Homo sapiens: one gene and its partner. The protein of the gene in region 1 interacts with the protein of each later gene in a pairwise test. Each region holds a gene or a part of one and is shown in the gene's direction. Other genes may lie near its edges.

Region 1 (7,274 bases):
TCCCAAAGTGCTGGGATTACAGGTGTGAGCCACTGTGCCCGGCCTAAATGCTTTTAAGTCCTTGCTCCTCTGCTCACTAGTTAGTGACATTGGGCAACTTAACGTTCTGAGTGTTGGGGGTTTTTTGTCTATAAAATGAGGATAATACGTGCAAAAAAGTTTATTTCAAATAAGTGCCTAGGCTGTAGTAGGGGTTCTGTAAATCAATGACAGTGATTTCTTTGTGTTCCCAGCATTTAGAATGAATGATGCCCAACACAGAATTAAATGCCTGGCAAATTGTTTACTGATTTAAACAGTGGAATTTACTCCATTATTTTACATTGTATTCTGTTAAATAGTTACAATGTGCCAGCGTTATTATTTCATCTTTATAACCTTAGGAGGAAAATCTGTTATTAACATTACTGTTATCATTTTACCAATAAGGAAACTGAAGTTTAGAGGTTGAGAACTTGTCACTTGTTGTGAAGCTGGGGTTCAAAGGCAGTCAAAGTCTGATTCTAAAGTCTCTGCTCATAGCAGTGCGTTTTAAGCCACTCTGACATATCTTGCTTTTCTTTGCTCATGTCATTTTTGTATTTTATTTCAGCCTCTCAGATAAAAAGAGTTATCTTGTATGTACCAAGCTTTTATCACATATGACCAGGTCTTCCTAATTTTAAACTAGTTTCTGAGAACCTGCTGCCATAGCAAGATTTCTGATTTCTGTTTTTTCCCTGGAAAGCTGAGATTCAGTACACCTGTGACGGTGACTATAAATTACCAGATTCTTTCAGGAGGAAATGGAAAGGATCATTTATTTTATCTTTGAAGTTTTGAAAAATCCAAGTGTTCATGATAGAGAGAATTTTTTTTTTTTTTTTTTTTTTTGAGACGGAGTTTTGCTCTTGTTGCCCAGGCTGGAGTGCAATGGTGTGATCTTGGCTAAACTGCAACCTCCACCTCCTGGGTTCAAGCGATTCTGCTGCCTCAGCCTCCGAGTAGCTGGGATTACAGGCATGCACCACCACACCTGGCTAATTTTGTATTTTTAGTAGAGACGGGGTTTCTCCGTGTTGGTCAGGCTGGTCTCAAACTCAGGTGATACACCTGCCTCGGCCTCCCAAAGTGCTGGGATTACAGGCGTGAGCCACCGTGCCCAGCCAAAGAGAATTTCTTAAATTGAATTTAATCTTAGACTCACATCTATACCTGTGTTTCCTGTTGCTGCCATTTTAAACCCTGCCCCTCTACTCAACATCATTCTATTTTGAATCCTCCAGTGACCTTTTTTATCCTGAATTTCTTTGGATTCACATGCATTTATTGTTTATGCATTCGGGGTACAGATAAATTCCTTGGAAGTAAGGAACTGCTTTAATACACAGTGCCTAGTAAATGTACATTGTTCGTAGTTGTAGCATCTAATTTAGTTCTTTGCATGTTGAGACAAGAAATATCTAAATGTAACTTTCATGAAGAAAGATTTAAGATAAAATTTAGGAACTCTAAAAGTTTTTACAAGCTAAAATTCCTTATCAGTGAAAGTTATATAATCTTTCTGTATGCAAAAAAATAATTTTTTTATCCTCTTTTACTTACAGGCACAAGATGCTGGTCTTGGGGTGTCAATTTTACTGTGTGTCAGAGCTCTTCAACTCAGATCAAGTGAAGATGAGGAAATGAAGGCATCAGTTTGTAAAACAATTGCCTGTCTTTTACCAGAAGATTTAGAAGTTAGACGAGCCTGTCAGCTTACAGAATTCTTAATTGAACCCAGTTTGGATGGATTTAATATGTTAGAAGAACTATATTTGCAACCAGATCAAAAATTTGATGAAGAAAATGCACCGGTTCCAAATTCTCTTCGATGTGAGCTCTTACTAGCTTTAAAAGCCCACTGGCCTTTTGATCCTGAGTTTTGGGACTGGAAAACTTTAAAACGACACTGCCACCAACTTTTAGGACAAGAAGCCTCAGATTCTGATGATGATTTAAGTGGCTATGAAATGTCCATTAATGACACAGATGTTTTAGAGTCATTTCTCAGTGACTATGATGAGGGTAAAGAAGATAAACAATATAGAAGAAGAGATTTGACAGATCAGCATAAGGAGAAAAGAGACAAAAAACCTATTGGCTCTTCTGAAAGATATCAGAGGTGGCTTCAGTACAAGTTTTTCTGTTTGTTATGTAAGCGGGAATGTATAGAGGCTAGAATTCTTCATCATTCTAAGATGCATATGGAAGATGGAATTTACACCTGTCCAGTTTGTATTAAAAAATTTAAGAGAAAAGAAATGTTTGTTCCTCATGTGATGGAGCATGTTAAAATGCCACCAAGCAGAAGGGACCGCTCTAAAAAGAAATTACTGTTAAAAGGCTCTCAAAAGGGTATTTGTCCTAAGAGCCCCTCTGCAATCCCAGAGCAAAACCATTCATTGAATGACCAAGCCAAAGGAGAGTCTCATGAATATGTCACATTCAGCAAATTAGAAGATTGCCACCTGCAAGACAGAGATTTGTATCCATGTCCCGGTACAGACTGTTCCCGTGTGTTTAAGCAATTTAAATACTTAAGTGTGCATCTTAAAGCTGAACACCAAAATAATGATGAAAATGCCAAGCACTACTTGGATATGAAAAATAGAAGAGAGAAGTGTACTTACTGTCGACGACATTTTATGTCTGCTTTTCACCTTCGAGAGCACGAACAAGTGCATTGTGGGCCTCAGCCTTATATGTGTGTATCTATAGATTGCTATGCTAGGTTTGGATCAGTAAATGAACTACTTAACCATAAACAAAAGCATGACGATCTGCGTTACAAATGTGAATTAAATGGCTGTAATATTGTTTTCAGTGACTTGGGACAGCTTTACCACCATGAAGCACAACACTTTAGGGATGCATCTTACACATGCAACTTCCTTGGCTGTAAAAAGTTCTATTACTCCAAAATTGAATACCAGAATCACCTCTCAATGCATAATGTTGAAAATTCAAATGGAGACATAAAGAAATCAGTGAAACTTGAGGAGTCTGCAACAGGTGAAAAGCAAGATTGTATTAATCAGCCCCATCTACTTAACCAAACTGATAAATCACATTTACCTGAAGATCTTTTCTGTGCAGAATCAGCTAATTCTCAAATAGATACAGAAACTGCAGAAAACCTGAAAGAAAACAGTGACAGTAATTCTAGTGATCAGTTAAGTCATAGCTCTTCAGCTTCAATGAATGAAGAGCTAATTGACACACTAGATCACTCTGAAACTATGCAGGATGTATTGTTATCTAATGAGAAAGTCTTTGGGCCCTCCAGTTTAAAAGAAAAATGTTCCAGTATGGCAGTTTGTTTTGACGGGACTAAGTTTACCTGTGGTTTTGATGGCTGTGGTTCCACATACAAAAATGCAAGAGGAATGCAGAAACATTTACGGAAGGTTCATCCATACCATTTCAAGCCCAAAAAGATAAAGACGAAAGATCTGTTTCCCTCTTTGGGTAATGAACATAATCAGACAACTGAAAAGTTGGATGCAGAACCTAAACCCTGCTCAGATACAAACAGTGACTCCCCAGATGAAGGTCTAGATCACAATATTCACATTAAATGTAAACGAGAACATCAAGGTTATTCCTCAGAATCCTCCATTTGTGCTTCTAAAAGGCCCTGTACAGAGGATACCATGTTGGAACTTCTGTTACGCTTGAAACATTTAAGCTTGAAAAACTCAATAACACATGGATCTTTCTCAGGGTCATTGCAGGGGTACCCATCCAGTGGTGCTAAGTCTCTTCAGTCAGTTTCATCTATCTCAGACCTTAATTTTCAGAATCAAGATGAAAACATGCCAAGTCAGTACCTTGCACAGTTGGCGGCTAAGCCGTTTTTCTGTGAGCTTCAAGGATGCAAATATGAATTTGTGACCAGAGAGGCTCTGTTAATGCATTATCTTAAAAAGCATAATTATTCAAAAGAAAAAGTCCTTCAGTTAACCATGTTCCAACATCGGTATTCCCCATTTCAGTGTCATATTTGCCAAAGGTCATTTACAAGAAAAACACACCTTAGGATTCATTATAAAAATAAACATCAAATTGGCAGTGACAGAGCAACTCACAAACTATTAGATAATGAAAAGTGTGATCATGAAGGCCCATGTTCAGTAGATAGGTTGAAAGGTGATTGTTCTGCAGAACTTGGAGGTGATCCCAGTAGTAACTCTGAGAAACCACACTGTCATCCTAAAAAGGATGAATGTAGTTCTGAAACAGATTTGGAATCATCTTGTGAAGAAACAGAAAGTAAAACATCTGACATTTCATCACCAATAGGCAGCCATAGAGAAGAACAAGAAGGAAGAGAGGGCAGAGGTAGCAGGCGAACTGTTGCTAAAGGAAATCTGTGTTATATTTTGAATAAATACCACAAACCATTCCATTGTATTCATAAAACTTGCAACTCCTCATTCACCAATCTAAAAGGCTTAATTCGCCATTACAGAACTGTACATCAGTACAACAAAGAACAGTTATGTTTGGAGAAAGACAAAGCAAGAACCAAAAGGGAACTTGTCAAATGTAAAAAGATATTTGCTTGCAAATATAAGGAATGTAATAAACGCTTCCTGTGTTCCAAAGCTCTTGCTAAGCACTGTAGTGATTCTCATAACCTAGACCATATTGAAGAGCCTAAAGTACTTTCCGAAGCTGGATCTGCAGCAAGGTTTTCTTGTAACCAGCCTCAGTGCCCTGCTGTTTTTTATACATTCAACAAGTTGAAGCACCACTTGATGGAACAGCATAATATTGAAGGGGAAATACATTCAGATTATGAAATTCATTGTGATCTTAATGGCTGTGGCCAGATTTTCACCCATCGCAGTAATTACTCACAACATGTATATTACCGACATAAAGACTATTATGATGATTTGTTTAGAAGCCAGAAAGTAGCAAATGAGAGACTACTAAGGAGTGAAAAGGTATGTCAAACAGCTGATACTCAGGGGCATGAACATCAGACCACCAGGAGATCATTTAATGCTAAGTCTAAAAAATGTGGCTTAATCAAAGAAAAGAAAGCCCCAATAAGTTTTAAAACCAGAGCTGAGGCCCTCCATATGTGTGTGGAGCACTCTGAGCACACACAGTACCCCTGCATGGTTCAAGGATGCTTATCTGTGGTGAAGTTGGAGAGCAGCATTGTGAGGCATTACAAACGCACTCATCAGATGAGTAGTGCCTATTTAGAGCAACAGATGGAGAATCTTGTTGTTTGCGTTAAGTACGGTACCAAAATTAAGGAGGAACCCCCTTCTGAAGCAGATCCCTGTATAAAGAAAGAAGAAAATAGAAGCTGTGAATCAGAGCGCACAGAACACAGCCATTCCCCGGGTGACAGTAGTGCACCCATCCAGAACACTGATTGCTGTCATTCAAGTGAAAGGGATGGAGGTCAGAAAGGGTGCATAGAAAGCAGCTCAGTATTTGATGCAGATACTCTGCTCTACAGGGGAACTTTGAAATGTAATCATAGTTCCAAAACCACTTCCCTAGAACAGTGTAATATAGTTCAGCCTCCTCCTCCTTGTAAAATAGAAAATTCCATACCTAATCCCAATGGGACTGAAAGTGGGACTTATTTCACAAGTTTCCAGCTGCCTTTACCAAGGATCAAAGAATCAGAAACTAGGCAGCATAGTTCAGGGCAAGAAAACACTGTAAAAAATCCAACCCATGTCCCAAAAGAGAATTTTAGGAAACATTCACAGCCCCGGTCATTTGATTTGAAGACTTACAAACCTATGGGATTTGAATCTTCATTTCTGAAATTTATTCAGGAAAGTGAAGAGAAAGAAGATGATTTTGATGATTGGGAGCCTTCAGAGCACTTAACATTAAGTAATTCTTCACAGTCCAGTAATGATTTAACAGGGAATGTTGTGGCAAATAATATGGTGAATGACAGTGAACCTGAAGTTGACATACCTCATTCTTCCAGTGACTCTACAATTCATGAGAACCTGACTGCAATCCCACCTTTAATAGTAGCTGAAACAACAACAGTTCCTTCCTTGGAAAACCTGAGGGTTGTATTGGACAAAGCATTAACAGACTGTGGAGAGCTTGCCTTAAAACAGCTTCATTATCTTCGGCCAGTGGTGGTTCTTGAAAGATCTAAGTTTTCCACACCAATTTTAGACTTATTTCCAACAAAAAAGACAGATGAGCTTTGTGTAGGAAGTTCATAAGTAGCAATTTTGTTTTAGTAACAGACTGGCTCCAACACTGCAACATGGGGACATTTGCCAACTCGAACAAAGGCTGAGAAGCAGCCACACCGTTGTTTAGGGTAGAATAGGCTGTGTATTTACATGAATGTATAATATCTATGTCAGCAGTATTGGCTGAGTCCATTAGCTCTCCAGTTGGTTTAATGATTGGGTTTATTTTTGTTTGTTTGTTTATTAAAAAAATGGAACTGTACACTTGTTTGGTGCTAATTAATACATCAAAATATACTGGGGCTTCCTTTTTCAAATTAAGTGTGCATGATTGTATATGGAACAAATACTAAGGTCCCAGGGTGGGAGGGCTAGGGAAAGGGATATGGAGTTCTTACTTGACTTGAATGTGCACCTGAGGGTGCTTTGTGTAATATATTGTACACTACAGCATCTTATATTTTTTGAGTTGAGTTTCAATAAATTACAATTTTTCACCCATTCGTTGTTTACTCATAATGAGCTTTCATGCCACATGTAAACTGAAATTGCACTTGTATTTTCTGAAATATGCCATTCACATTTTACCCCAGTAATTTTTTTATTTATTATTAGCTAAATCATTCAGAACAAGGTTCTTTTTTTTTTTTTTTTTTTTAAGACAGAGTTTCGTTCTTGTTGCCCAAGCTGGAGTGCAATGGTGCAGTCTCGACTCACTGCAACCTCCTCCTCCCAGGTTCAAGTTATTCTCCTGCCCCGGCCTCCCAAAGTGCTGGGATTACAGGCATGAGCCACCGTGCCCATCCCAGAACAAGGTTCTTTTTATCTTAAAATTTTTGTTTTTGTGGAAAGATAATTCTGAGATTAATTAGCTGCGGGAGTCAAGATAGCTCCCAGAGGATGTCCAGATGTTGGCCGAGTAGAAAGGAGAGGATATGCCAACCTAGAACATGAAGGACGTAGCAAATTCAGAGGGCATGTTTCTAGGAAACTACAAATAATTTGATATGCTGGCAATAAAAGGGGAACAAGAGAGTGACATCATTGTAGAGATAGCAG
Region 2 (7,984 bases), on another chromosome or scaffold:
TGCCTCCCAAGTTCAAGCCATTCTCCTGCCTCAGCCTCCCAAGTAGCTGAGATTACAGGTGCCCACCACGCTGGCTAATTTTTGTATTTTTAATACAGACAGCGTTTCACCATGTTTGCCAGGCTGGTCTCGAACTCCTGACCTCAGGTGATCTTCCTGCCTCAACCTCCCAAAGTGCTGGGATTACAGGCATGAGCCACTGCACCCAGCCTGAATTTATACTTTTATTGAGTTAGTCTCTGGCATCAAACATTCGTGAGGAATTTTCTTCTGTTCCATGAGATTTGCTTTCTTCTTAGTTGCATTATTTGCCTTTATGTCTCCTGCATGCCATATGATGTTCCCCCTTGGTTTTCTTTTGTTTTGTTTGGCTGGTGTGTGTTTGCACGGTTGCCATGCTGTTTCTCTGCCCCCTGCCCATGCTTGGGAGGCTGTTTCCTGACACTGCGTATCTCTGATATTGTTGAGACATCTTCAGGTTTTTCCATGATAACAGAAGCCCTTTTGTTTTCCTGACTCTGCTGCAGTCTGGAGCTTGAGGAGCTGTGTTGCATCCCTTCTTCTGGGGTAATGTGGAGGCAGGGACAGAGTTCAGCAGCGCTGAGGTGCACTTTCTATTAGCATCCCTCTTAGCATCTGCCTGTTCTTCTGAGATGGTATTGCAGATTCTCTACCAGGGACACATGTCTGTTAGGGTATCCTTTATGGGTACATTTAGGCTTTGGATGGCTTATTATACTCAATATGAGGCTCTTGGGCCTTTTTTTTTTTTGAGATGGAGTCTCGCTGTGTCATCCAGGCTGGGGTGCAGTGGCGTGATCTTGGCTCACTGGAACCTCTGCCTCCCAGATTCAAATGATTCTTCTGCCTCAGCCTCCTGAGTAGCTGGGACTACAGGTGCCTACCATCATGCCCGGCTAATTTTTGTATTTTTTATTAGAGACGGGGTTCCATCACGTTGGCCAGGCTATTCTTGAACTACTGACCTCAAATGATTCACCTGCCTTGGCCTTCCAAAGTGCTGGGATTACGGGCTTGGGTCACCATGCCCGGCCACCTTTTCTTTGTACCTTTCTACCTTGATCCAAAATCTCCTCCAGAGTTTGAATTTCAAGTATAGAGCCTCCATCAAGTTCACTTAAATTTGCTTTTTTCCAATTACTGTTGCCAAATACCCAATGTTAGTTTGTCTATTACCCTTGGTGTTTGGACAAATTGAAACTGTGGTTTTCTTCTGCTGTTATACCACAACAACAGTCAACACAGAAGACTCTGTGACCAAATGGGTGGGGGTTTTCTCCCACACACCAAGCAGGGGACATCAGCTAGGTGTCCTCCCTCTTATTTAATTCAATTCTGATTCTGCCTACCTGGAGATAGCTGTAGATCCCACAAGTTGAAGGCTCAGTCCCCAACACTGGCCCCTCCTTTCCACCACTCACAAGTCTGGGCCTCTGGAACTTTTGATTGACTGGCTTCAAGTTGGGGTTTCCACAACCCCCTCTTTGGGTTCAATTAATTTGCTAGAGTGACTCAAAGAACTCAGGGAAACACTTACGTTTACCAGTTTATTATGAAGGATATTACAAAAGATACAGATGAAAAGATGCATAGGGTGAGGTATGGGGTAAGAGGTATGGAGTTTCCATGCCCTCCCTGGGCACACCACCCTCCAGGAACCTCCACATATTCAGCTGTCCAAAACCTCCCTGAGCCCTGCCGTCTGGGCCTTTTATGTTCGTTGTATAGGCATGATTGAAGCATGGACAGCCGTGTCAAGGTGTGATTGACCTCTCTGTGCAGCCATGCTTCCTCCAGGGTATGAGGCAGGACCCTGTTTGCAATGAGGGTTTATGATCCGTAATCAGAAAGGCGGGAGATGATTAGAGTCCTGCCTTTAGTGAGTGGAAGGGGAGCAGAAGGTGAGAGAGAGAGAGAGAGAGAGAGAGAGAGAGATTGATTCTATTTTCTGAGGCCTAAAGTGCCCCAACATTGTAACAAAAGACTGTGAGTTATGAACCAGGTACTATGGCTGAAAACCTACATATACATGTATCATCATATCACACTTGGCAAACAACTCTTTGTACATTTCTGTAGCACTGCAGTGTTCAGTCTCTGACTTGGTGTGTCTTTCTCATCTGCCTCTTTGTTCTGCTGCTGTCCTAGAAATTAGAGACTTTAAAAAATTCCTTGGCTTTTTGGTAGAAAGAAACTCCCAGACTGGGTCCAAGCTGAAAATGAATCCCTTACTGGGTGAAAAACATGGATGCGGTAACAATTCCTGGCTGTAAATGCTCATAATATTACTGTTGAACCATTTTATGCTAATAAATTATCTGGGACCTACTTCCCTTTTGGTTTATTCCTCTTTTTTTCTCCTGTTGCTACTTATAACCATCCTTGTCAACTATCTACATTTTACTATTAAATTATTCATATAATGTTGGTGATTTCAAAGTTTTCTTGTATTATTTTTGGGCATTTGGCCGAAAGGCACTGCCTCCATTTTACAAGTTAGCATGTATCCAGAGGCCCTGTCCTGCAACAAAGGTGCAGGTGCCTCAGTGGCAATACGTGTAAGAAAATGTTAATTTTTAGGGTAAAAATTTCATTAGAAACTGTCTTTGTGGAATACAATATTAGTTAATCTTTACACATGTTTTTAAAGGAAGACGAAAGATTGCCACTAAAAATAAATTCGTACTGAAAGCATCTCTATCTACTCTCTCCATTTTTAAAGTACCTCACTTAGTATCTTTGTTTTCATTTGTTAAATGCAAGGTCATCCTTTGAATGTTGTCTTCAACTATGCTTGAAATAGCTTGAGACCCAGCAGATAATTCTGACCAGGAGGTATCAGCAGACAGTGGGCAGCACAGTTAGAGGAAAAAAATGTTGCAGGGCCCCACTCCCAATAAAAACCTACAATAAAAAATTTAAAAATTTTAATAAAGAGGAAAATGACAAAGAGGTTTTCCAAAGGATGTTCATATTCTCTATTTAAAAACCCCACTGGGCCGGGTACGGTGGCTCAGGCCTATAATCCTGAGCCCTGGAGTTCGAGACCAGCTTTGGCAACATGGTGAAACCTTATCTCTACCAAAAATACAAAAATTAGCCAGTCTCATAACCCGCTCTTAAATAAATAGATTAAAATTTAAAAATAAATAAATAAATAAATAAATAAATAAATAAATAACCCCACTGATATGAACATTTCTTCCATTTTGGAGTAAAGGTGCCTACAAGGCTAGGCAATGTCCATATTTCTTTCCTGAATGTTTCCAACGGGGCTGCGCCTAGAGCAGATGTATCATAAATACTAATTACTTATTATAATGACCAAGCTACATTGTTAGCATAGAATAATTCCACAGGCTTCCCTATTGGTTTGTTTGATCCTAAGCCTATTAATACCTGCTTCTATGTCAGAAAATCTACATTAGGCCAGGCATGGTGGCTCACACCTGTAATCCCAGCACTTTGGGAGGCCGAGGCAGGTGGATCACCTGAGGTCAGGAGTTCGAGACCAGCCTGGCCAACATGGCAAAACCCCACCTCTCCTAAAAATACAAAAATTTAGCCGGGCATGGTGGCAGGTGCCTGTAATCCCAGCTACTCAGGAGGCTGAGGCAGGAGAATCGTTTGAACCCAGGAGGCGGAGGATGAAGTGAGCCTCAAAAAAAAAAAAAGAAAAAAAATATTATTTTGATACATGTTTTAAAGCTCACCTTCGGCATTATGAGATAATCCCTCAAGTGAGGAAAAAGGTCCATTTATTAATCTCAAAGAAAACAGTTACAGCAGATGTCACTGGTTAAGAGTTCAGTTGGTGAATAGCATTTCACAATTTGTACCAACATCTGGGGAAAGACGCTTTGCATGGAACTGTAAAACAATTGAGCACCAAATCTGCACAACTGCGTTTCTAGAAAATGCGATGGGTTTTATAGAGATGAGGTCTTGCTATGTTTTCCAGGCTGGTCTCGAACTCTTGGCCTCAAGCGATCCTCCCGCCTCGGTCTCCCCAAGCGCCGGGAGTACAGGCGTGAGCCACCGACGGAAATGGATTTTAAGTGAAAGTCCTATCTTCGTTTGCAAATCAATTTTTCCAGGATCAAAGTTCTAGCAACCATAAATCCTATCCTTCTAGACATAGGGACCCACATAAGGGCCACTTGATGTGACACTTGCCCCGACAGCGGTGCCACCTGGCCCCTAGGTGGCAGGTGCGTTTTTAACTAAACCCAAGAGTCTGAAGTCACATTATTCTCTTGCCTTGAAAGCTTAAGAGTTGGTTCCTAATCGGTGGCTTAACTCGGTCTCTCTCCAGGCAAGGCCACCTGTTTGCTGATCTTTCACAGGGCGAGGGGACCGGAGCCCTTCAATGCAGCGCCCTCTTGGCCTGAAGAGGGGGCGACTGGGCGCCCAGACCGCGTCTTTCTCACTGAGATCCCAGCTCCTGGACGACTGCCTCTTTTCGGGTTCGGCTCATTCCGCAATAAGTGGAGGGGTCCCGCCTGATCCTAGGGGCCGGCGCCCTTTTCCTTCCCTCCCTGCGCTTGCGAACCCCTCCGGGCGTCTCCGGAGCCGCGACCCCTGCTGGGGACCCCGGGGGCGGGAGGCCGAGGGGCGCGGCGAGGGCCGTGACGCGAGGCGGGGCCGGCCAATGGGAGCGCTCCGCGGCGCAGGCTGAGCCGCCGGGCCATAAAAAGGAGGCGCGGCCGGGCTTTCCAGCCTGTGGCCGCTCCCGGCTCGGAGTGTGATCTAAGCAGGTTGCGTACCTTCCTCAGGTGACTCCGGCCACAGCCCATTGTCCGCGGCCACCGGCGGAGTTTAGCCGCAGACCTCGAAGCGCCCCGGGGTCCTTCCCGAACGGCAGCGGCTGCGGCGGGTCCATGGAGAAGGGCCCTGTGCGGGCACCGGCGGAGAAGCCGCGGGGCGCCAGGTGCAGCAATGGGTTCCCCGAGCGGGATCCGCCGCGGCCCGGGCCCAGCAGGCCGGCGGAGAAGCCCCCGCGGCCCGAGGCCAAGAGCGCGCAGCCCGCGGACGGCTGGAAGGGCGAGCGGCCCCGCAGCGAGGAGGATAACGAGCTGAACCTCCCTAACCTGGCAGCCGCCTACTCGTCCATCCTGAGCTCGCTGGGCGAGAACCCCCAGCGGCAAGGGCTGCTCAAGACGCCCTGGAGGGCGGCCTCGGCCATGCAGTTCTTCACCAAGGGCTACCAGGAGACCATCTCAGGTCAGTGCGCCCGCGGGCTGCTAGAGCGTGCGGGCGGCGGGGGCGGTGCTTGCAGGAAACGCGCGCCGGCTCCAGGAAGTTTCCGGAGTTGCCTCACTTTTGGCGCAGGAAGCCGGGCGCTGTCACCTCCGAACCCGCCCTAGCCTGCCGCCCTGCCGAGGCCCTGCGTGGGGCACAGTCGGGGCTTCCTGGGTGGCAGCGACCTCTCAGCCCCGGAACTCGCTGCAGCCGCCTTCCAGGGGCCCTTCCCGCTCCCAGCGCGCAGCCCTCCTAGAACGCCCCGGGTGGGCGTGGACGGGAGCCCGGAGCCCTCTCGCCTGAGCGCCCAGCGCGGGATTCTCGGGGTACCTGCGGTTCCAAACTTGCCCACGATAAGGATCACCTGGGCACTTGCTGCGGCGACGGCTTCCTGGGTAGTTCCTTATTGAGATCCCATTGTCAGGGTGTGTATCTGGATTGAAGCCTCGGCGCGATCCTTCCCCGAAACCTCGGGGACCTGCATTCCCACTGATTTGCCAGGGGATCGGAGTCTTAGAGTTGTGCTTTTTTTTTTGTCCACCTCAAGTTTACTCCAGTTCAGGACATTTACAAAATTCGGCACAATTTTGGGCACGGGCTTCCCCGGAGTTTGAGGTGTGAGGTTGATTGGGTGAGTTTGCTGCTGAAATCTGTTTCCTCCCCCCACCCCCAACCCCGCAAAAAGCAGTAAAGCTACTCCGGGATTCGGAGGGCTCCGTGGGTTCCAGGACTCAGTCTCATCCCCGCACCCTCCCACCCTAAAATAAAGCCGGGTTGACCCGGTGCTGTTAGCGTCTGAGGCGTGTCGGCTTTTCACCCAGAGGGTGGGGATGCAATCAGTGTGGGTAGGATGCAAGATGGGGTGATGGAGAGTGGAAAATGGGGACTTTGCTGCCTGTTGGCCAGAGAAGCAGTATTGGTCTGTGTTTAAAAAAATAAAGCTTCTGGCTTCTACAGCTGGGACCAAAGACATTATTTTCCAGTCTACACCTTCCGTGTGTCTTGGTGACATTTATTTATTTGCCCTAAGAAGCATTCTACCGTTCACTGTTTTTTGAAAGAAAAACAGTGCGCTGGAAAGGCAATCTCCCTGCCCCAGTTATTTCTCTGAAGGAGTGTAGAGCGATTCCACCAAATAGACCCTGGGAAAAAGAAAGTTATTTTTTGCCCAGTCTTCCACACCCCAAAGGAAGGGTGGGAAATCAGAATGTGAAAGAGACGGGGCCCCAAAAGGAAATGATGCTACACTCTAAAACCGGCAGTGACTTCTAGTTCTGTTTCCAAATTCACTTTTTTTTACCCCTCAATTGCAAAAGTTTGGAATCTCAGAAGAGATTTCAAAATACAAAGACTGAAAAATAAACTTTCAGTTTTCTGTGGGATCAGCTCTTTGGAGGTCTAGGGCTTTAAATTTGTGTGTGTGTGTGTGTGTGTGTGTGTGTGTGTGTGTGTGTGTGAGATATTTCACAATGTAATGAAATGTCTTCTTAAGGCCTTACTCATTTTGCCCCTTGCAGACACAGAAAGTGGTTTACTTCACAGCATCGGCCAGGCTTTGGGAATCCTCCCTTAAAGAGAATTCATAGGACAGTGTTCTGTAATCTAGCATGGATCTAATTACCCAAAGAGAGAGGAATTTCTGACCCTGAGACAGGTCACAGAATTATCTAAAGTGACTCACAGATTTACTTGAGAAATGGTTAGCTGAAATATCTCATGAGCGAAGATTCATTTAAAGAGGATTAATAACTGCAAAGAACACATCATTCCACATTAGAAAACTGTTCTGGTTGGCCGAGCTCGGTGCTCACGCCTGTAATCCCAGCACTTTGGGAGGCCGAGGTGGGCGGATCACCTGAGGTCAGGAGTTCAAGACCAGCCCGGTCAACATGGCGAAACCCCGTCTCTACTAAAGATACAAAAAAATTAGCCGGGTGTGATGGCGGGCGCCTGTAGTCCCAGCTACTCGGGAGGCTGAGGCAGGAGAATCACTTGAACCCAGGAGGAGGAGGTTGCAGTGAGCCGAGATTGCACCACTGCACTCCAGCCTGGACGACAGAGGGAGACTCTGTCTCCAGAAAAAACAAAAAAAACAAAAAAACTGTTCTGGTCAAGTTTTACTATTTAAAAAGTCCATGGGCCGGGCGCGGTGGCTCACACCTGTAATCCCAGCACTTTGGGAGGCCGAGGCGGGCGGATCACCTGAGGTCAGGAGTTCGAGACCAGCCTGGCCAACATGGGAAAACCCATTCTCTACCAAAAATACAAAAATTAGCCGGGCATGGTGTCAGGTGCCTGTAATCCCAGCTACTCAGGAAGCTGAGGTAGGAGAATCATTTGAACCCTGGAGGCGGAGGTTGCAGTGAGCCGAGATCGCACCATTACACTCCAGCCTGGGCAACAAGAACTAAACTCCATTTCAAAAAAAAAAAAAGTCCATGGATGTAGAGACACTGCAAGATTAGTAGTTGTCAGGGACTGGCGAGAAGAGGGGGATGGGTAGTGATTGTTTAATGAGTATGGAGCTTCCTTTGGAGCTTCCTTTTGGAGTCATGAAAATGTTCTGGAACTAGAGAGTGGTGATAGTTGCACAATATTGTGAATGCCACTGGATTGTAACTTCAAGATGGCTAAAAATGACCAATTTTATATATATTTTACCACAATATAAAGACAGGTTTTGTGGCGTGCCTGCAGTCCCAGCTACTAGGGAGGCTGAGGC

Evidence for each region.
Region 2: the proteins of RLF (region 1) and GCH1 interact in a two-hybrid assay, tested with the Homo sapiens proteins (one study listed by BioGRID and IntAct).

What each region holds. Positions count from the first base shown.
Region 1 is NC_000001.11:40,234,206-40,241,479, forward strand, and holds the end of RLF (zinc finger protein Rlf), read left to right. Parts: intron 1-1,586; coding exon 1,587-6,242; 3' UTR 6,243-6,716; downstream 6,717-7,274. UniProt on the Homo sapiens protein: May be involved in transcriptional regulation.
Region 2 is NC_000014.9:54,899,581-54,907,564, reverse strand, and holds the start of GCH1 (GTP cyclohydrolase 1), read left to right. Parts: upstream 1-4,738; 5' UTR 4,739-4,901; coding exon 4,902-5,244; intron 5,245-7,984. UniProt on the Homo sapiens protein: Positively regulates nitric oxide synthesis in umbilical vein endothelial cells (HUVECs). May be involved in dopamine synthesis. May modify pain sensitivity and persistence.